6 linked regions of the Homo sapiens genome follow. The protein of the gene in region 3 interacts with the protein of the main gene of each other region in a pairwise test. Each region holds a gene or a part of one and is shown on either strand. Other genes may lie near its edges.

What was found.
Region 1: the proteins of HUNK (region 3) and CTR9 interact in a two-hybrid assay, tested with the Homo sapiens proteins (one large-scale study listed by BioGRID and IntAct).
Region 2: the proteins of HUNK (region 3) and LURAP1 interact in a two-hybrid assay, tested with the Homo sapiens proteins (one large-scale study listed by BioGRID and IntAct).
Region 4: the proteins of HUNK (region 3) and PITHD1 interact in a two-hybrid assay, tested with the Homo sapiens proteins (one large-scale study listed by BioGRID and IntAct).
Region 5: the proteins of HUNK (region 3) and AKAP8L interact in a two-hybrid assay, tested with the Homo sapiens proteins (one large-scale study listed by BioGRID and IntAct).
Region 6: the proteins of HUNK (region 3) and USP8 interact in a two-hybrid assay, tested with the Homo sapiens proteins (one large-scale study listed by BioGRID and IntAct).

What each region holds. Positions count from the first base shown.
Region 1 is NC_000011.10:10,764,746-10,768,245, reverse strand, and holds part of CTR9 (RNA polymerase-associated protein CTR9 homolog), read right to left. Parts: intron 1,845-3,500; coding exon 1,756-1,844; intron 441-1,755; coding exon 255-440; intron 173-254; coding exon 85-172; intron 1-84. UniProt on the Homo sapiens protein: Component of the PAF1 complex (PAF1C) which has multiple functions during transcription by RNA polymerase II and is implicated in regulation of development and maintenance of embryonic stem cell pluripotency.
Region 2 is NC_000001.11:46,213,334-46,216,833, forward strand, and holds part of LURAP1 (leucine rich adaptor protein 1), read left to right. Parts: intron 1-3,500. UniProt on the Homo sapiens protein: Acts as an activator of the canonical NF-kappa-B pathway and drive the production of pro-inflammatory cytokines. Promotes the antigen (Ag)-presenting and priming function of dendritic cells via the canonical NF-kappa-B pathway.
Region 3 is NC_000021.9:31,879,520-31,883,019, forward strand, and holds part of HUNK (hormonally up-regulated neu tumor-associated kinase), read left to right. Parts: intron 1-3,500.
Region 4 is NC_000001.11:23,784,918-23,788,417, reverse strand, and holds the end of PITHD1 (PITH domain-containing protein 1), read right to left. Parts: intron 2,744-3,500; coding exon 2,639-2,743; intron 2,104-2,638; coding exon 1,995-2,103; intron 1,144-1,994; coding exon 1,042-1,143; 3' UTR 186-1,041; downstream 1-185. UniProt on the Homo sapiens protein: Promotes megakaryocyte differentiation by up-regulating RUNX1 expression.
Region 5 is NC_000019.10:15,398,489-15,401,988, reverse strand, and holds part of AKAP8L (A-kinase anchor protein 8-like), read left to right. Parts: intron 1-385; coding exon 386-839; intron 840-945; coding exon 946-1,042; intron 1,043-1,124; coding exon 1,125-1,195; intron 1,196-1,630; coding exon 1,631-1,694; intron 1,695-2,578; coding exon 2,579-2,687; intron 2,688-3,222; exon of another isoform or gene 3,223-3,359; intron 3,360-3,500. UniProt on the Homo sapiens protein: Could play a role in constitutive transport element (CTE)-mediated gene expression by association with DHX9. Increases CTE-dependent nuclear unspliced mRNA export.
Region 6 is NC_000015.10:50,430,905-50,434,404, forward strand, and holds part of USP8 (ubiquitin carboxyl-terminal hydrolase 8), read left to right. Parts: intron 1-3,500. UniProt on the Homo sapiens protein: Hydrolase that can remove conjugated ubiquitin from proteins and therefore plays an important regulatory role at the level of protein turnover by preventing degradation. Converts both 'Lys-48' an 'Lys-63'-linked ubiquitin chains.

The sequences.
Region 1 (3,500 bases), on a different chromosome or scaffold from region 3:
TAAGAAAAATTCTGATTTACAAACATTCCTCTGAAAGTATTCATTTGAAACAAATTGTTATGGGTACTCAAGTCTTATAATCACCTATGCCATTGGCAGCATACAGATTCTTTGCATCATTTCTGAGTACTTGTTTGTAGATGGCCAGAGCACGATCTTGATGACGCTTTTCCTATAGAAACAAGTGCTCTTAAAAAAGATTCAAACGAGAATGTAGAGTATCAGTTTTGTTTAAAAGGACAAAAAGAGATTACCTTTTCTCGATCTCGGGTGGGCTGATGTAAAGTTTGGAGCCACACGTTGCCAAGGGCTAGCATAGAATAGGTATCACTCTGTGTGGATGGCTGTTTTAATATCCTCTCAAACTTCTTCTGCCCAGGACCCCATTCTTGTTTTGCCAAATGAAGATTGCCAATCAAAGACCAAGCATCTGGATGATCCTGAAACATACATACATGAAGAAGGAAAATCTGCAGTTTAGTTTGACAGAGATCAATCATCTTCCCACAATAGCTGATTACTGAAGAGGTTTACAAACTATATTACAACAGTGGTTTTCTTTCTTTTCTTTCTTTCTTTTTTTTTTTGCATGGCAATCCAAATTTATCGAACTACTAATGCTAAAGCTAAGTTATACAAAATTGCACCACTTTAATTAATGCTTTCAGTTTACATTTGGCCACCTCAAAGTAGTTGTAACATTAGGTTGGTCAATTTAAATACTGTGGCTCCCTGTTGGATAGACACACAATCTTTACATCCAGACATAAATGCATACAAAGCAACAAGGCACTGTTAAATAAAACAGCAATAGTTACTGCAAATTAGGCCTTGTGACCAATTACATATGATTAAAATTAGTTCCCCACATTCACATCCACAGTACTTGTCCACCATTTAAAATCTCAACCAAAACGTTACAAACGTGGAACCATCACTAACAGGCAAAAATACTAAACTATATTTGGTATTGCAAATACCCTTAGGCATGAGCAAGCATGGGATTCACAGTGAGAATCTACAGCTGCAGAAGCCTGAAAATGATTTACAAAAATTGTTAAATCATTAAAAAATTGTTTGAAAATATACACTTCTTGTTGTAGACCCCCACATGAGTGGTTTTCAAACTGAGTTGATACCCATTAGTAAGTTGTAAAATCCATTTAGTTAGTCTTTAGTTATCTGCATAGTAAATGCAACAGAATGGAATAAAGTAAAAATATCAGTGTATCGCCCATTGGCAAAAGCAAATAATGATTTGTGAAACTTTCATTTCAGTTGTTTGTCTATATATACATTTGTGTGTACTAGGCTATGATGTGAAATCTATTTCTTTTTGTGGGCCCTCAAAACGTTTAGATGACCATAGCTATGGTTCCATACAAAATCCTAAGATACTATGCTATAAAGTTCTCTCATATGGTACTAACTAAACTGAAAGTGAAGTAAACTAGTGAGAGTAAAAAACACAGGAGTCAGGTCACATTTGTTGAAGTGGAGTGAAAGGATGGGATGGGGGAAGGGAAGAAGGAAAAAGGAAGACAATAGGAAAGATTTACATAAAAAAACATGGTCCCTATTTATAACATGATTAATAATGCAACCTAGTACATTTTTAGTATCTAACAAGTAAATGAAAACAAAACAAAAAATGACAAAACCAGGAAGATGTAGCCATTAAAAGGAAAAACTGATTTATGGGGAAGGAAAAGTGAAAATAATTATTTCTCAAACCTAAGAGTTAATATTACCAACCTGATTAATCTGAAGAGCTTCCTTAAACCAATCTGAAGCCTCATAAAAGTTTCCCTTATCTCTAGCCATGGCTCCTAGGCGCAAATAGCCTGAAAACATATTTAAAAGTTTTTATATCCCAAATATTAGCTATAAAGGATCATAATTTTAAAGTCATACTTTTGAAACAATTTTTTTTCATTAATACCGCCATAAAAGGAACAGAAAAGTCCCAAAGGTGAAAAAATATCAATCATCCATCCAACAAGTTAAAGAATAATTTTGTCACCATCTAGACTTACTGTTTGAAATCTAAGACTTACCTCTGCCACTCCACTCCCAATGCTAGTTCCCTGGTCCAAGTCCTTATCTCAAGCTAAGTTATTTTAAAAGCTTGGAACCGGCCTGTTTCTAATTTCTCTCCAATGCACACCATTGTCAGTTACCTTTTTTTAAAAAAAGCTGCTTGTAATACGGCAAAACAGTGAAAGTCTGATGAATAGGTATTACTACTTAGAAGATCTGGGCTCTAACTGGGGTTCTTCCATTAATTAATAGTGAAGTGCTACACAAATGTAAGTTGTTGTTTTCTCTAGGAAATGTCACTTCTCTCAGGAAACCAATAATGGTTCACTACTGCCTATCAAATCAATTCAAATTCAGTCTGGCATTCAACTGAAATCTTGCTTATTTTAAATCACTTTTGCATCCATAACAGCATGATAGGCACCAAGTTAATAGCTCCTGATATGCCGGGCACGGTGGCTCACGCCTATAATCCCAGCACTTTGGGAGGCCATGGTGGATGGATCACCTGAAGTCAGGAGTTCTAGACCAGTCTGACCAACGTAGCAAAACCCCACCTCTACTAAAAACACAAAAATTAGTCGGACGTAGTCGTGGGCCCCTGTAATCCCAATTACTCGGGAGGCTGAGGCAGGAGAATCACTCCAACCCGGGAGGCAGAGGTTGCAGTGAGCCGAGATTGTGCCACTGCACTCCAGCCTGGGTGACAGAGCAAGACTCCATCTTAAAAACAAAACAAAACAAAAAAACAAAAAACCTCCTGATTTACTAGAGTCAAAACATCATGCTTTAGGTTCTTTTTAAAGAAAGTACAAAAACAAACAAAAAAACCCTCATACACACAAATAAAATTAAGTACACTATGTATATTATTATTATTTAAAATATAAAGATGGGGTCTTGCTACTGGGGTTGTTTAGGTTGGTCTTGAACTCCTGGACTCAAGCGATCCCGCTGCAGTGGCCTCCCAAAGTACTGGGATTCCAGGCATGAGCCACCATGCCAGGCCTAAATTATTTTTTAATTAAAAACTTTCCTTATTTTATAACGTATAGGTTGCGAAACTCAAATTAGGACATTTTAGCAATAATTGTTTAAAGGAAAAGCACTTTTCTTCCTCACTATTATAAACATTGTAAGAATGTTCATATGAAATCAAAGAAGGATGTTTCAAAGGTAAATGCATTATCAGATATGCCAAGGAGTTGTTAAAAGCCTAACAAAGGTAGCTGACCCACTGAAGATAACCTAGTCATTGAAATACGGTCCAATTGGTTTTAGTTGCTTATTTCTAGCACAAATGTAAGTAAAGCTGCACCTTTGTTTTAAGGCCACAAATTTGCCCTGGAGAAATGGGGACATTAGAACCTTAAACAATTTTTACTATCAATTCTAAATTTTTTTCAGGCTAAATTTTTGCTGCTCTTGTGGGAATGAACGGATTTCATTACATAAAGAAG
Region 2 (3,500 bases), on a different chromosome or scaffold from region 3:
GACATTTTGTTTTCCATATTTTAAAAAGTATATAAATTTTTTAAAATGTCATCTAGTTTGTGCATTTACCCTGTCATATTTGCACGGCAGTAAAACCTCCTGCTGGTGTATTTCTCTAAGCATATCCCCATTGTTACGTGACAAATGACTTTATATATGGAGAATAGAACAGAAGGTCTCTAGATTAAAAGACACTGAGCATAGTTGAGGACAAGAGGGACTAAATAAAAATACACTAAATACGGCCAGGCACAATGGCTTACGCCTGTAATCACAGCACTCTGGGAGGCTGAGGTGAGGAGTTTGAGCCTGGGAGTTTGAGGCTACAGTGAGCTATGATCATGCCACTGCACTCCAGCCTGGACAACGTAGCGAGACTTTGTCTCTACAAAAACTTTAAAAAGTACTAAATATCATGAAATACCTCTCCAAGCCTTTACCCCTACTTGGCTCCTAGGATACTGACAGCCTTGCTTACGTTATACTCTCTAGAGTGGTATAATATGGGGAATATGATTAACTCAAGAAAAAAAAAAAAGATACAGACTTTAGACCTCCAATTAAACAGCCCAATCAGATCATCCTGTAGTGAGGCTCAGAGTTGGCAAGCTTCATACATACACGGTTTCTAGTCATTGTAGAGATCCACTCTGAAGGGTGAGCAGCAGTTAAAGATGATAGACATCTGACCCTCTATATAGACCTAAATAAATAGGAAAAAGCAACTTGAGGCCGGGCATGGTGGCTCAGGCCTGTAATCCCAATACTTTGGAAGGCCGAGGCTGGATGATCACTTGAGGTCAGGAATTTGAGACCAGCCTGGCCAACATGATGAAACCCCATCCCTACTGAAAATACAAAAATTAGCTGGTTGTGGTAGCGGGCACCTGTAATCCCAGCTATTCAGAAGGTTGAGGCATGAGAATCGCTTGAACCTGGGAGGTAGAGGTTGCAGTGAGCCGAGATCGTGCCACTGCACTCCAGCCTGGGTGACAGAATGACATTCTGTCTCAAAAAGAAAAAAAAAAAGGAAAAGAAAAAGCAACTTGAATGAAATGGAGATAATACAGAGAGATACGAACTTATAAAAATCATTAAGCATATCCTTAAAGAGATAAAAGATAATACTGTAGCCATGAACAAAAACAAGAAGGTGTAAAAAGGTAAACATTCAGAGAACTAGAAACAGCACTTGGAAATAAACACATCATGGCGGGGAAAAGAAAAAAGAAAAACCAAAGAGTTGATAATAGGCCAGGTGTGGTGGCTCATGCCTGTAATCCCAGCACTTGGGAGGCCAAGGCAGTGGATCACCTGAGGTCAGGAGTTCAATAGCAGCCTGACCAACATGGTGAAACCCCATCTCTACTAAAAATACAAAAATCAGCCAGATGTGGTGGCAGACACCTGTAATTCCAGTTACTTGGGAGCCTGAGTCATGAGAATCACTTGAACCCGAGAGGCAGAGGCTGCAGTGAGCCAAGATGTGCGCCATTGCACTCCAGCCTGGGGGACAAGAGTGAGACTCCATCTCAAAAAAAAAAAAAAAAAAAAGAGGAGTTGATCAAGTTGAAATATTTCAGAAACTAGAGCAAGTATAGAAATAGATGTGACTGGGTGCTGTGGCTCACGCCTGTAATCCCAGCACTTTGAGAGGCCAAGGCAGGTGGATCACAAGGTCAGGAGATTGAAACCATCCTGGCTAACATGGTGAAACCCTGTCTGTACTAAAGATACAAAAAATTAGCCGGGTGTGGTGGTGGGCACCTGTAGTCCCAGCTGCTTGGGAGGCTGAGGCAGGAGAATGGCGTGAACCCGGGAGGTGGAGCTTGCAGTAAGCCAAGATCGCACCATTGCACTCTAGCCTGGGCGACACAACAAAACTCTGTCTCAAAAAAAAAAAAAAAAAAGAGATGCAAGAGTGAAAAAAACAAAAACAAAAACATAGAGGATCATCAGTTCAGGACACCCTCTGTCCAAGTAATAGGATTCCCAGAAAGAACAGAAAAATACTGGAGGATAATCATCAAAGAAATAATTTTAAAAAATCTCCCAGAACTGAAGAACGTCAGTTTCCAGATTGAAAAGGCCCATCAAGTGGCTAACTCAATAGATGAAAATAACCCACACCATGGCAAATTGCTGTAAAAACAGAACACTGGGAACAAAGAGAAGATCCTAAAAGCTTTCAGCAAGAATGGGAAAAGGGTCACATACAAAGGATCAGGGATTGGAATGGCATTAGATTTTTAAAGGCTAACACTGAAAATTAAAAGACATGGAGGCTGGGTGCCATGGCACATGCCTCTAATCCCAGCACTCTGGGAGGCCAAGATGGGCAGATCCCTTGAGCTCAGGAGTTTGAGACCAGCCTGGGCAACATAGTGAGACCCCATCTACAAAAAAAAATTTAAAAATTAGCCAGGTGTAGGTACATGCCTGTAGTCCAGCTACTTAGGAGGCTGAGGCAGGAGGGTTGCTTGAGCTCAGGGGATCAAGGCTGTAGTCAACCATGATTGTGCCACCACTGCACTCCAGCCTGGGCTATAGAGTAAGACCCTGTCTCAAAAATAAAATACGACAATGGAACAATGCCTTAACCCCTGAGGAAGAATTATTTTCAACCTGGAATTCTATATCCTGCCAAACTATCAATAGTGTGAGGAAAGATTAATAACTTTTTAAAAATAATTTCAACTTTTATTTTATCTTTTTTTTTTTTTTTTTTTTTTTGTGACGGAGTCTCGCTGTTGCCCAGGCTGGAGTGCAGTGGCGCGATCTCGGCTCACTGCAGGCTCCGCCCCCCAGGTTCACGCCATTCTCCTGCCTCAACCTCCCGAGTAGCTGAGACTACAGGCGCCCGCCACCTCGCCCAGCTAATTTTTTGTATTTTTAGTAGAGACGGGGTTTCACCGTGTTAGCCAGGATGGTCTCTATCTCCTGACCTCGTGATCCACCCGCCTCGGCCTCCCAAAGTGCTGGGATTACAGGCATGAGCCACCACGCTCGGCCCTATTTTATCTTATTTGAGAGAAATCTCATTCTGTCACCCAGGCTGGGTGCAGTGGCACCACCATGGATCACTGCAGCCTTGACCCCCCAGGCTCAAGCAATCCTCTCACCTCAGCCTCCCGAGGAGCTGGGTCTACAGGCACATACCACCACACCTGACTAATTTTTAAATTTTTTGTAGAGACAGTGTCTCACTCTGTTACCTAGGCTGATCTCAAACTCCTAGACTCAAGTGATCCTCCTCTCTTGGCCTCTCCAAGTGCTGGAATTACAGGCAAGAGCCACCATGCCCAGCCCAACTTTTATTTTAGATTCGGAGGGGGGTACCTGCGCAGGTTTGTTACATGGGTATATCACATGATTCTGAGATTTGGGATACTGTTGAACCCATCACCCAGGAAGTGAGCATAGTACCCAACAAATAATTTTTCAATCCTTGCCCCCACCTCTCTCCCTCCTCCAACAGTCCCCAGTGTCTATCATTACCA
Region 3 (3,500 bases):
TTTGAGTCAGCGCAACAGTGCAGAAACGGTGCCCACGGAGAGGAGTACAACCCTACATTTTCTCTGCAGGTGTTGAGTCACGGCTATAGCTACCCGTGCATACCAATCCGACTCAGGTCTGTGAGACTATAGAATTCTGCATGCTGCCAGCTATTGGAGGTCAGCGCGGCAATCATCTGTCCCAGGGTTTATCTGCCCAGAAGGGGTGGGGAGTGGCAGCCATGTGCCCCCGAAGAGAGGGACAGGTTGGGGTGTTCTCCATGGGAAGGAGGCTTGGGCACAGGGTTATCATTTGCCTTGGGACATATATTCCCTCTGTCGATTATTTATGGTAACGGAGAGACCTGCTCTCTTGGCTAATTGAAACCCGTAGATAATCCCCAGGCCTTATGTTAGCTGATGGGTGAAACTTCTTTCTCTACTCAGCCCTGGTCTAAGTACTGACCTGAATTGAATTTCACGCTTTCTGATAGGAGGTGCCACTGGGTGGTACGATGACCAGCAGGAAAGAGCTAGAAACACAGGGACTGAATAGTCCCCGAGGAGGGGGATGCCTCTGTGAATTCGAGACAGCTGTTCCCTCTCCTCCATCACCAGCACCAGCCCAGTGCTACAGTGTTTTACGGTTTTTTTCAGGGTGCCCCTCCCGTGCACATTCTTGTTAGATGCCTGCAGCAGCCCTGGTGGAGGGGGTAACAGCCAGCTTGCTGGTGTTCTTGCCTGCCTTGATTACGTAGAAGGGTGCCCTGAGTAGATCTTCTCTCTGACATTCTCTATGAGTTTGCTAGGATGGTTCTAACAAATTACCACACACTGTGTGGCTTCAACAACAGAAATTTATTCTGTCACAGTTCTGGAGGCTAGGATCCAAAACCAAGGTGTTGGCAGGGCCATGCTCCCTCTGCAGCCACAGGGAGAATCCTTCCTTGCCTCTTACTAGCTTCCGGTGGTGGCCAGCACTCTTTGGCATTTTCTGGCTTATGACTGCAGCGCTCTGTCTCTGCGTCTGTCTTCACACAGTGTTCCTCCCTCTGAGTGTCTCTTCTGTCTCTTAATCTTTTCCTATGTCTCTTTATAAGGACACCAGTCATGGGATGTAGGTCTACCCTAATCCAGTGTTGCCTCATTTTAACTCGATGACATCTACAAAGTCCCTATTTTCAAAGAAGATCATATCCACAGGTACCAACGGGACTTGAAGGTATCTTTTGGGGGAGCATAGTTCAAGCTCCAGCACCTTTTTAGACTGTCAGTATTGGGTTGTGGCAAGCGGATCTTGGGAAGGAGATGAATGTGCTTTTAGGGATTACTCTCAGAACTGACCTCTGCAAGGGAAGGGGCAAAGCAGCACTGGGCAGAGGGAGAAGCTGGGCTCCAATACCGCTCTCAGCCAAAGCCCCTGCCCATGCCGTGGTGAGTGCTGGAGCTGAGCTGGCCCTTCAGAGCTGACCAACTTGGGTTGAGAGGACTGGGATTTATATTTCCGCATCGGCCAGTCCTTGATGGGGGCTGCCCAGGCAAGGGGCATGGCCTCGTACGGGACAGTTGCTGAGGGCGGTTCCTGGGGAGAGCTCACAGCTGATAGCCTGCAGCTGAGGCAGTCAGTTCTTCAGCACTGACGGGGAATCTGGGGGTGCAGCCCAGCATTTGCTGTTTACTGAAAGAGACAGGGTCAGAGTCCAGGGCTTTTCATCTGAGTCCATACCATATGGACCGTAGACAACGTGGGCATCTTTTCCATGCGCATTTTGGATATGAGTGGTCATCATTTCCATGTGTTGGTATCAAGTCCTCTCATCTCGTTACCTTGAAATATACAAAGTATGGCCAGGCGTGGTGGCTCACGCGTGTAATCCCAGCACTTTGGGAGGCCGAGGGAGGCAGATCACCTGAGGTCAGGAGTTTGAGACCAGCCTGGCCAACATGGTGAAACCCTGTCTCTACTAAAAATACAAAAAAATTAGCCAAGTGTGTGTTCCTGTAATCCCAGCTACTCGGGAGGCTGAGGCAGGAGAGTCGCTTGAACCAAGGAGGTGGAGGTTGCAGTGAGCCGAGATTGTGCCACTGCACTCCAGCCTGGGTAACAAGAGCAAAAACTCCATAACAACAGCAGCAGCAACAACAACAACAACAACAACAAAGAAATATACAAATTATTGCTGCTAAATATAGTCCCCGTAGCAAACATTAGCATTTAGTCCTTCTATCTATGTATGTTTGTACCCATGAACCAGCTTCTCTTCAGCCTGCCCTACCTTGCTGCTCGACTGTGGTCTCTCTCCCTGCAATGAGGGAGCAGCCGGCGTGGCATCTCATTAGCAGATTCTATGTGCCACACGCTGGGGGATTTTCTGGCCTCACATTTCTCTTAGGTTAGAATCATCAGGGCTCTGTTGTGTTTCTCAGTACTTACAAGATTGAAAGCTCACTTTATATGTATGCTCTATGGGTTTTTTCCTGAGAACTCTGGGGCAACTGAGTGTTGGGCCAAGTTGTGGGCCAGCATGCCTACTTCAGAGACGGTGGCACTTTCCTGGGAAGAGACCCCCCCTCCCCCATCACTCGTGAGTGGTGGGAAAAGTTGTTGAAGGAGTTGTGGGAATTTGGATTTTTGATGAGTAGAGTAACAGTTTGGGACATTCTCATGGACAAAAAAAACTACTCAGGGTAGAGCCATCTGTTAACATCCTCTTAGCACTCTTACGGTGGCCACTGTGCCCTAGCTATGCAACTTCTAATCACTGGGTTCTTTTTGGTTTTTAATCATCTTTGTGTTTTCAAGATGCATTTGGTTAAGTTTTGGAATTGGTAATACAGACACATGGTCTGAAATTCAAAGGTTCTGAGAGGGTTTGCAGTGAGAGGTAACTGCTTCTTATCTGGGCTCTTCAGTTCCTGGATCTTCTCGTGAGAGGTCACTCCTCCTTCTAGTCCTTGTGTATCCCTCCAGAGATACCCTATATGCATAGAGACCCACATACATATTTGTAAATGCGTAGTTAGGGGCAGATTTTTCTTCTTTATTGATACATAATATTTTACATATTTATGGGGTACATGTGAGTGTTCCATGCATGGAGTGTGTAATGATCAAGCCAGAGTATCGGCGTGTCCATCACCTAAGTATTCATTTCCACGGGTTGGTATTATATCAAGTCCTCTGTTCTAGTTACCTTGAAATATACAAAGTATTGCTACTAAGTATAGTCACCCTAACAGACATTAGAATTTAGTTCTTCTATCTATGTATGTTTGTACCCATGAACCAGCTTCTCTTCATCCATCCCTCCCACCCACCAGGGCAGATGTATTTTTAAACTGTACATGCTGTTCATTATCTTGCTTTTTCACTTAGCAATATGTCTTGAGCATTCTTCCCCATGACTACTACAGAATTGCCTCACTCTTTATGTTAATTAGTTATTGCATAGTAGTCATTGTGTGGAAGTATCATGTTGACTTAACCATCCCTTGTTGATGGACATTTAGGGAGTACATAA
Region 4 (3,500 bases), on a different chromosome or scaffold from region 3:
CTCCCAAAGTGCTGGGATTACAGGCGTGAGCCACCGCGCCCGGCTCCAGTCTTGATTTAATTGTGGCACTTCCTATAATCTACCTAGTCCAAAACAACAACAAAAAATTTCAAAGTTCAGTACAGTTCCCCATGAAATGAAAGTTGCATCAGTGGCTATCAAGAACTCAAAAGAAAATACAAACATTAAGTCTGGCAAGGATTTATTAGGAAGCTTATTAGTCACAGTGAATAAAAGCCATGAAAAGAAGAACTCAAATCTCCAAATTCTGGCATCGGACTTACAACACTAGTTAGAAGCTAATAAACATTAAGGAATTTCCAAGGGGAATCTTAACTAAGTCTCAATCTTACTGACCAGATTACCCACACACATAGAAATGATCCCCATGCTCTCCCCAGACTGCTTAGCTAGGCAGTGGAAAAGACCTTCTCCCCAAGCTTAAGCTATCACGCATCAGCAGGAGACTCCTGTCCTTCTAGCTATAACCACAGGACACATGTGCGTGACAGACAACTCCAAGCTGGGCAACTTGACAAGAATGCTGAACAATGAGAGGGGAAAGGAGCAAGCAGGAACAAGTGTTTTAGTTGGAGACCCTCCTGATGGCTACTACTAACACAATCCGGAGGCATCAGAAAGTTTCCTATAGCCCACAAATAGTTTCCTTTAAAAAAACAAAAACAAAAACAAAAAAACAAGTCACACAACAATCTTGCCACAAAGCAACATGACACTTGGAATCACATGGCCACATTAACTGGAAAAGCAAGTGTTACCCATGACTGCCAGATGCCACCCAGCCCAAGACCCAATTTCCACAGCGCCCTAGAGAACCACGATGGTCCCCTGGCACCTACACAACCCTCCCAGTGGTGTCGTATCTTCCGTAGGCCAGGTTTCTGCAGCAAGCCCCAAAGACAAAGCTTGGCAGAGGCTGTGGCAGCCAACTCTCTCTGGAGCCTCATCCCTTTGTCCTTCCCAACAGGTAGTCGTACATCTTCACTGACACAGCGCCTCTATGGGAGCCTTGGCCAGCCCTTAGGAAATAAAGTGTGTCTGTGGGGTAACCTGATGGACCCTATGGTCTGCTGGGTTGGCAGATGCTTCGTAATTGCAGATGGTCACCTCGTGTCGGCGAAGCTGCAAGAAAATTGAGGCTGGGTCAGCCAGCCATTAAAAGAACTGTCCTTTCCCACACCACACACATTGCGGTAGTCCTTATTCAGGTTCATTTCTAGGAGTCATCATTTAATATCTCCTTATTTTAATACTTAGATGTCATCATCTAATATCTCCCAATTTTGATACTTTTTAACTCCAGAAAGCTGCAAAGATCATTATCATTGATTCACCCTGTAACTTTGAAGATTCAGTCTCCCTACTATAATGGGGGTACCATGAGAATAGGAACTTGTCTATGGTATTATCTTATCCCTGGTTCATGAATAGAAAAGATTATCAAAAATACTCAATGAAAGCATTTGAAAGTAGAAAACTGTGAATTAATATAAATGACAATTTCAGGCTGGGCAAGGTGGCTCACACCTGTAATCCCAACATTTTGGGAGGCTGAGATGGGCAGATCACCTGAGGTCAGGAGTTCGAGACCAGCCTGGCCAACATGGTGAAACCCTGTCTCTACTAAAAATACAAAAAAATTAGCCAGGCGTGGGAGTGGGCACCTGTAATCCCAGCTACTTGGGGGGCTGAGGCAGGAGAATCACTTGAACCTGGGAGGCGGAGGTCGCAGTGAGCTGAGATATATATATATATATTATATATATTATTTATATAAAAATAACAGTTTCAACCCCCTTAAAAATACCTGTAGTTTCTCAAATGAGACGAAAAGTTTATACTGATAAAACCAAGAAAAATAATAAACTGGGAGTAATTATGACACTTGCTCTTTTCCCTTCCCTGGAAGCTCCCATCACCACAGTGTGCAGATATGTAGACATGAGGGGAAAACCTTTCCAACCCCATCTTACCTCAGTCCACTCTCCTCTCAGGCCAATATAAAAGACCTTTGTCGTATCTGCTCCGAAGTTTTTTGAAATATGAATTGAGAGATGATAGACATTTGAAAAACGAGAAATTCTAGAGGATGACAGGAATAGGGAAAGAAGGTATGAATTATAGTTCAATGAGTATCTCACCACCATGTGAAACAACAATTCAGCTCCAGCTTGTAAAAGCCAGGCAAAGTCAGAGCTCCTGAGTTCTTCCTTCTCCTTTGGACAGGCAATTAATTCAATGACCATTTACTGAGCACCTGCCAGATCCTGTCCAAGGCAGTAGGGATAAACACTGCTCCTGCCCTCAAGGAACAGGAATGAGAAATGCTGCATAACCCAGCAGGGATTCTAAAGCACATTTAGTGTTAACCTAAACTAATGGGAGACACATCTTTCCTAAAACCACCCTAGGAGTTCATTCAGATCTGCCAATTGCTTGCAAGTTAACAAGTCTGTGGCTTGCACTGAATCTCTGCCAAAAACTGACCAAGCCAAAGATCAAGTCTCCTCCACTGTTTTAACTCATTTCCAATGCTAAGAGAGCAGGAGACTGGCCAAAAATAAATGGCAAGCCCTATAAGAAGCCATAGAGAATGGAAGACAGGCCCAGTGCTTACTTTGTAGCATACTCTAATTCTCCTGTAAGATCCCGGTTCAGACTAAAGGTCTGATCTGGCTCCCTTTCTGTATCATCAAAGGACATCTGTGGAATATTCTTGTACCTGAGAAAGGAAAGGAAAGAAAAGTCAAGAAATGTGCATTATCACGTTTCAGGTTTTCAAAATTTTCTACTGACTGCTTAAATGGCTTTGGTTCTATCAATAGGAGACTGAATTTGGGGGTCATATTTTAGAAATGACATTTTATACAAGTATCTCCAAATATCTTTTTTTTTTTTTTTTTTGAGACAGAGTCTCACTGTGTCACCCAGGCTGGAGTGCAATGGTACAATCTCAGCTCACTGCAACCTCCACCTCCCAGGTTCAAGTGACTCTCATGCCTCAGCCTCCTGAGTAGCTGGGACTACAGGCGTACGCCACCATGCCCGGCAAATTTTGGTACTTTTAGTAAAGACAGGGTTTCACCATGTTGGCAATGCTGGTCTCTAACTCCCAACCTCAGGTGATCCGCCTACGTCGGTCTCCGAAAGTGCTGGAATTACAGGCATGAGCCACCGCGTCTAGCCTACAAATATCTTTAATCCAACAAAAAAAGAGCTGAGATCTGCAACATAACCCCATGGCATCTTTGAGTGGGTTAATATCACATGAGAAGCAATACACAAAGAGACGGCTCAAACTAGGTCACATGCAGCAAATGCATGGAGAAAATAAACAACTCAGCACATTCAGACCAAACTGAGGATGTTATTAAATAAAACAGCTTACTCATGGGAAAAATACATACTTTGGCAGAAACATATTACACACAGTTAAGAGATAAAAGATCAGGTAACCCAATGCTCAAGCATTTTTTTGT
Region 5 (3,500 bases), on a different chromosome or scaffold from region 3:
GGGTGCTGGGGTGCTCAGCCTTGCCCTGTGAGGAGCAGCCTTGGGCGTTGCAGCTCCCACAGATGGTGTACATGTTCCCAAAGGGCTGTGGAGCAGCTCTGCCCCTTGTTGAGACTCACTGGACTAGAGCCTCCACCCCAGTTATCAGTCCTTCAGTCCTTCTTAGGGTCCCCAAGCCAGTGTGTGGCTACATTCAAGTTTGGGGCAGTGGTGCCCCTATATCAGCTGAGAGGCTGGAACTCTTTAATCGGCATTTCTGAACATTGAGCCTCCCAACCAGGGCAGGGTGGGTGCTGGACTGGGAGATTGGGGAGGGCAGGAGCAGTTGCCTGGAGGTGAGGGATCCTGAGGGGCTCCACCTGATGCTCACCCCATGCCTCTGCAGGTATGACTCTTATGAGTCCTGCGACTCGAGGGCCGTCCTGAGTGAGCGCGACCTGTACCGGTCAGGCTATGACTACAGCGAGCTTGACCCTGAGATGGAAATGGCCTATGAGGGCCAATACGATGCCTACCGCGACCAGTTCCGCATGCGTGGCAACGACACCTTCGGTCCCAGGGCACAGGGCTGGGCCCGGGATGCCCGGAGCGGCCGGCCAATGGCCTCAGGCTATGGGCGCATGTGGGAAGACCCCATGGGGGCCCGGGGCCAGTGCATGTCTGGTGCCTCTCGGCTGCCCTCCCTCTTCTCCCAGAACATCATCCCCGAGTACGGCATGTTCCAGGGCATGCGAGGTGGGGGCGCCTTCCCGGGCGGCTCCCGCTTTGGTTTCGGGTTTGGCAATGGCATGAAGCAGATGAGGCGGACCTGGAAGACCTGGACCACAGCCGACTTCCGAGTGAGTGGAGGCAGCCTTCCCCTCTGGGAAGCTTAGTTCCCACTGGGGCGGAGCTAAGGGCCGGGTGCCATGCACCCTGACACGGCTTCCCCCCCTTATGACCCAGACCAAGAAGAAGAAGAGAAAGCAGGGCGGCAGTCCTGATGAGCCAGATAGCAAAGCCACCCGCACGGACTGCTCGGACAACAGCGACTCAGACAATGGTGAGCCCACTAGGTGGTACTGGGCGGCTGCCCCCTGCCTCTGGGAACTCCTGGGTTGAGCTTACCTCCTTTTCCCTTTCAGATGAGGGCACCGAGGGGGAAGCCACAGAGGGCCTTGAAGGCACCGAGGCTGTGGAGAAGGGCTCCAGAGTGGTAAGTGGCTCTGGCTGGGCATTTTCTGTCTGCAGGCAGGGCGAGCTGGCCTAAAGAGTGGTGCTCTCCCTGGGGGCCAGAGGCAATGCTGTGTCAGCTCTGCGTGCATGGTGACCAGCATGGGGAGGCAGTGTGGTCTGGCAGAAAGCACAGGCTGCCTAGCTGGAGGCACAGTTTCCTTGTTGGAAAATGGGATGAGCCCCTGTGCACCAGGTAGTGGGAGGATGTGAGGTTTCTGGCACATAGCCGGGCCTTGTCATTTAAAGCCATTGTAAATAACTGGGCTACTCTGGGCCACCCTGCCTATAGGATAGCCCTGCTCTGTCTATGGAGCAAGCAGCTGTTTTACTATATACCGTTGCTCTAATAAACTTGGTTTCTTTTAAAAAAAAAAAAAAAGGCACCTGTTTTAAAGTTGGAATTTGAAATTGTTAGGACGGAGAGGATGAGGAGGGAAAAGAGGATGGGAGAGAAGAAGGCAAAGAGGATCCAGAGAAGGGTGAGTTTTCCTGGGGTGCCTGGTGCTAGGGCGGCTCTTCCAGGGGCTCACAGTGGGAGGGACCCAGCTGAGGGCAGGGTTGCGGCAGACATGCGGCCAGTTGGGGACCTCCCTTGTGGGCCCGAGTGTGTGCTGGCAGGGGGCTTTCTTTTCGCCGCCTCCACCCCCTTCCCACTCTTCCTCCTCCTTCCCAGGCGGAGGCTGTGGATGGTGGTGACCCCTGCCTAGCACACTGGTTTTGCCTTCAGATGGGGGCAGCTAGTAAAAGTGTGGGGAACCCCAGGCACGCCCCCTGCCCTCGGTCCCTCAGTAACGCGCAGTTCCAAGTCCTCAGTGGCTGGTGTCCGATCTGGGACCCTCGGTGCAGTTTTTACGGCTCTGGTGTGCGTATCCTCTCCCTTAGCACCTCTCCAGCCCCTGTTGGGATTCCGTGTCCCCCCACCTGAGTGATGAGCGCCAGCAGGTACCTAACAGCAAATCCAGCGTCAGCCCACTGTTGCCGCGGTGCCCGGTTGGGGGTGGGCAGGGCCATGTGAGCAGCCTCCCTGCATCCCACCACCTGGCCCCTCTGAACATGTGCCAGTGTCCCCACAAAGATACCCCCTCTTTGCTTTCCAGCCTCCTCCTGGCCCACTGCACAGAGAGCATGGGTGTCCTGGAGAGTGGAGGGGTCATCGCCTGGCCCCCACTCCTTGGGGCCTAGGCCAAACCCACTCCCTGCACAGCCCAGGATACCCAGCCCTGCTCATGGCCAGAGGCCTTGCTTGGACAGCTATTCTCGATGGACCCTCTGGAGTGGACAGTGGGTGATTCAGCCAGAGGCCGCAGGGCCTGCCCTGTCCTGGCAGAGCCAAATTGGTGACAGTGCCCATCTGCTCCCACAGGGGCCCTAACCACCCAGGATGAAAATGGCCAGACCAAGCGCAAGTTGCAGGCAGGCAAGAAGAGTCAGGACAAGCAGAAAAAGCGGCAGCGAGACCGCATGGTGGAAAGGTAACCAGCTTCCCTCCACCCCTCTGCCTCTGCCTCGCTGTGGGGCTGCCGCCAGGAGAGCAGGGCCATAGCTCTGCCAGCTCGCCGCCCTCTGGCCTCCCTTGGGAGCCGCCACCTGCTCGGCCGTGCATGGACCCTGCTTCCCGCCAGGCCCAGCTCCCAAGGCCTGACTCATCCCCTGCCCCTCTGCGGCCGCCTGGCGACCGCTGGCGTCTGTGGGCCGAGACCTGACACCGCTCGGCACCGTTGCTCAGAAGCTCTGGCGCTAGGTCACTCGGCGCACGAACCCCAAGGTGCACTGGGGGCCTGATGCCCCTGAGGGAGGGGGCCAGCTCATCAGAGACTCAAGGTCCAAGGCGCCTGTGCCGCCCCAGCTAGCTGCCAAGAGGCCACCGCCGTGCCCAGGAGAGATGGCAGCACCTGTGGGCTGTGGCAGCCTCGGGCCTGCCTTCTGCCCTGCCCGCCGGCCCTGTCAGGCCGGGCCTGTCTGCGGCTGAGCCCTTCACGCCCCTTGGTCGGGTCTGTCTGCCCTCAGGGCTCCCGCACTGGCGCTTGCCTCCTCCGCCTCAGACTCTTGCTCTTGCTGGACCTTCCTCAGCCTCGCCGGCGCCCGGCCCCTGGGCTCTCCAGACAAAGCTGACCCCGTGGCCCAGATAAGGACGTCCGGCAGAGGTAGGGACCCGCCCCGAGGTCTCGGTGGCGGCTGGCCTCCTCCGCCCCTTGCCACGGCGGCCTGCTCCGGCCCAGGCCCCAGACCCCGGGCTTCTACTGTGGACACCAGGCCCAGACAGAGCACCTCGCCCAGGTGACTCC
Region 6 (3,500 bases), on a different chromosome or scaffold from region 3:
ACAGTTTTGGTTGTTACAACTGGAAGGGAAGGATGATAGTAAACTGGCGTCTAGTAGAGGTTAGGGATGCTGCTAAACATCCTGCAGTGCACATTGCACAGAGCAGCCTCTCACAACAAATGTTTATCTGGTCCAAAATGTGAGTGATGGCAAGGTTGAGAAACGCTGCTGTAAACTGATCAGTTTTAAACTGCAGTATTACTTTTTTTGTTAATAGCACTACTGCTCTTCATATTTTGCAGGGTACAGTGTGTGTGCCTCTGTGTGTGTGTGTGTGTGTGTGTGTAAGCAAGAGAAAATACTGTTTCGATCAACCAGTTACCAAAGCATGTTTCTACCATTTTGTGTTCTTTTCTGCAGTGACCTTGTAGTTACTCTTTTCCATAGTATCATTCCCTTGTTCTCATCTCCTTTCAATCTTACTTACATATCCCTAATTTGACCATCTTGAGATAATATTTTTCCCATCAGGAACTGGCTTTTATTGCCTGCTGAATCAAATATAAAGAATTCTGGATGGCTTCCAAAGTCTTCCATAATGTGACTCCATCTCCTACATAATATAATTTAGTTATTCTTGTTAGTCAACATTTTTTTTTCCTTTTAGTTAAATTCAGCTGACAGGGAGAAACATTTATTAAAGTGGTGACTATGTGAGGACTATTGAGATAGGTGCCAGGGATCCAAAGACATGTCAACATTTTCCCTCTATCCGATTGATTATTTCCCAATAACTTCTGTAATATTCCTTATTATTACTATTTTTTCCGAGATGGAGTTTCACTCTTGTTGCCCAGGCTGGAGTGCAGTGGTGCGATCTTGGCTCACTGCAACCTCTGCCCCCTGGGTTCAAGAGATTCTCCTGCCTCAGCCTCCTGAGTAGGTGGAATTACAGGCGTCCACCACCATGCCCAGCTAATTTGGTATTTTTAGTAGAGACGGGGTTTCTCCATATTGGTCAGGCTGGTCTTGAACTTCTGACCTCAGGTGATCTGCCTGCCTCAGCCTCCCAAAGTGCTGGGATTACAGGTGTCAGCCACCATGCCCAGCCAGATGTCCTCCTTTCTTACCCTGTTCTTAGCTAAATTCTGTCCTCAAGGCCAGGTTCTCTCTCTCATCACATCATCATGAGCACTGCGTGTGTATGAGGATTTTAAAGCCTTATAGTAATTGTCTGTTGATCCCATTACTGTATTTAAGGAATGATATAGATCACAAGCATTGTAGGATTCACATGAAGAAACAAATTCCAAGAACTGGGACCATAAAGGATGGAAGAGATGGAACTTAAGTTTGTTTCTTCTTGTAGCTGAGACCTCAGATGTGCACCACTACGCCCAGCTAATTTTTAAATTTTTTGTAAAATTTTTTGTCTTTACTTTGTTGCCCACTTTGTTGGCTACCTACCATTTCTCCCTATCTCTGCCCTTTAGGCAACAACAATACTCAACATAAATATCTGTTCTTGAACTCCTGGGCTCAAGCAGTCCTCCCACCTCAGTCTCCCAGAGTGTTGGGATTACAGCTGTGAGGCACCACGCCCAGTCAGTGCACTGCTTTTTGCATGGAGAAAGTCTTGCTGCTACTTTAAAAAGGTCAGTGTGCTTAATTGATCTACATTCTGTCACAAACTTCTTATTTTATCACAAACTGATAACAAACAGTTCCCCAATCAGCACTGGTCATTGGACCATACTTGGAGTTACATTGCTGTAGTGTGAGACTTTCATACTTTTTTTAAAATTGTCACCTGTATTAAGAAATACATTTTACATTTTCATCCAGTGTTATATCATATACACATGTACATAACTGAAACAATTTTACGAAGCAGTACCTAACCTTACTATGTGTGACATAGTCTGATGTTTGCTATTTTTTTAATGCTGATCATGACCTTCTAATGGATTTTAAAAACACTGCCCTCAAGCATTTAGCACAGTGCTAGAGACATAGTAGTTGCTCAGAAAATACCATACATTTTAGCAGTGATTAAATCTTGAGAGGGTTGAGCCTTCTTAATACTTGAGGATTACTTTAAAATGTTATTTCATTGGCCGGGCACGATGGCTCACGCCTGTAATCCCACCACTTTGGGAGGCCGAGGCGGGCGGATCACCTGAGGTCAGGAGTTCGAGACCAGCCTGGCCAACATGGAGAAACCCTGTCTCTACTAAAATACAAAAATTAGTGGGGCATGGTGGCGGGGCGCCTGTAATCTCAGTTACTTGGGAGGCTGAGGCTGCTTGAATCTGGGAAGTGGAGGTTGCAGTGAGCCAAGTTCATGCCACTGCACTCCAGCTTGGGCGACAGAGTGAGACTCCGTCTCCAAAAAAAAAAAAAGTTATTTAATCAATACTTAGTTGTTTGTGGCACCTTATACAGAACGAGTGTAGAGTGGATTATGAGATTTAAGACAGCGAGAAGATACTTATGTTGAGTATTGTTGCTGCCTAAGGGCAGAAATAGAGAGAGATGGTGGGTGACCAACAAAGACAACTTTTGCTTTCCTTTCAATATTGCCAAAGACCTTAGGAGTGGCTGGTGTGAATCCCTGCTTAAAATCAGGACCAGTTTGAATGACTGCAAACCTCATTTTTCACTTTTTACCTTTTAGTCTTCACTTTGTGGTTCCAGTCATCAAATCCCTACTCTTTGTCTTAGAAAGGAGCAGAAGGATGTCAGAGAAAGAACATTTTCTCTTTATTTATTTATTTTTTTTTGAGATGGAGTCTCTGTTGCCCAGGCTGCAGTGCAGTGGCGCGATCTCAGCTCACTGCAAGCTCCACCTCCCAGGTTCGTGCCATTCTCCTGCCTCAGCCTCCTGAGTAGCTGGGACTACAGGTGCCCGCCACCGTGCCCGGCTAATTTTTTGTCTTTTTAGTAGAGACGGGGTTTCACCGTGTTAGCCAGGATGGTCTTGATCTCCTGACCTCGTGATCCGCCCGCCTTGGCCTCCCAAAGTGTTGGGATTACAGGCGTGAGCCACTGTGCACGGCTGCATTTTCTCTTTGTTAACTCATTTTCAACACTTTTGGGTTTCACTTTTGGAGCACTGCTGTTTGACTAAGGCTGAAGTTCTTTGTCAGGTTTACACATCTTAAGAATTTTTATTTTTTGTTGTTAGAAGCATGTTAATTTTTCTTGCATATACTTAGTTATTTTTTTTTCACTTGCAATCCTTCTTGAAGCATAAGGTTTTTTGTTTTGTTTTGTTTTGTTTTGTTTTGTTTTAAAAGACAGAGTCTTGCTCTGTCGCCCAGACTCCGCTCACTGCAATCTTCACCTCCTGGGTTCAAGCGATTTTTCTGCCTCAGCCTCCTGAATAGCTGGGATTACAGGTGTGCGCCACCACGTCCGGCTAATTTTTGTATTTTTAGTAGAGATGAGGTTTCACCATGTTGGCCAGGCTGGTCTCAAACTCCCGACCTCAAGCAGTCCACCTGCCTCAGCCTCCCGAAGTGCTAGGATTACAGGCCTGAGCCACCACGCCCGGCTGC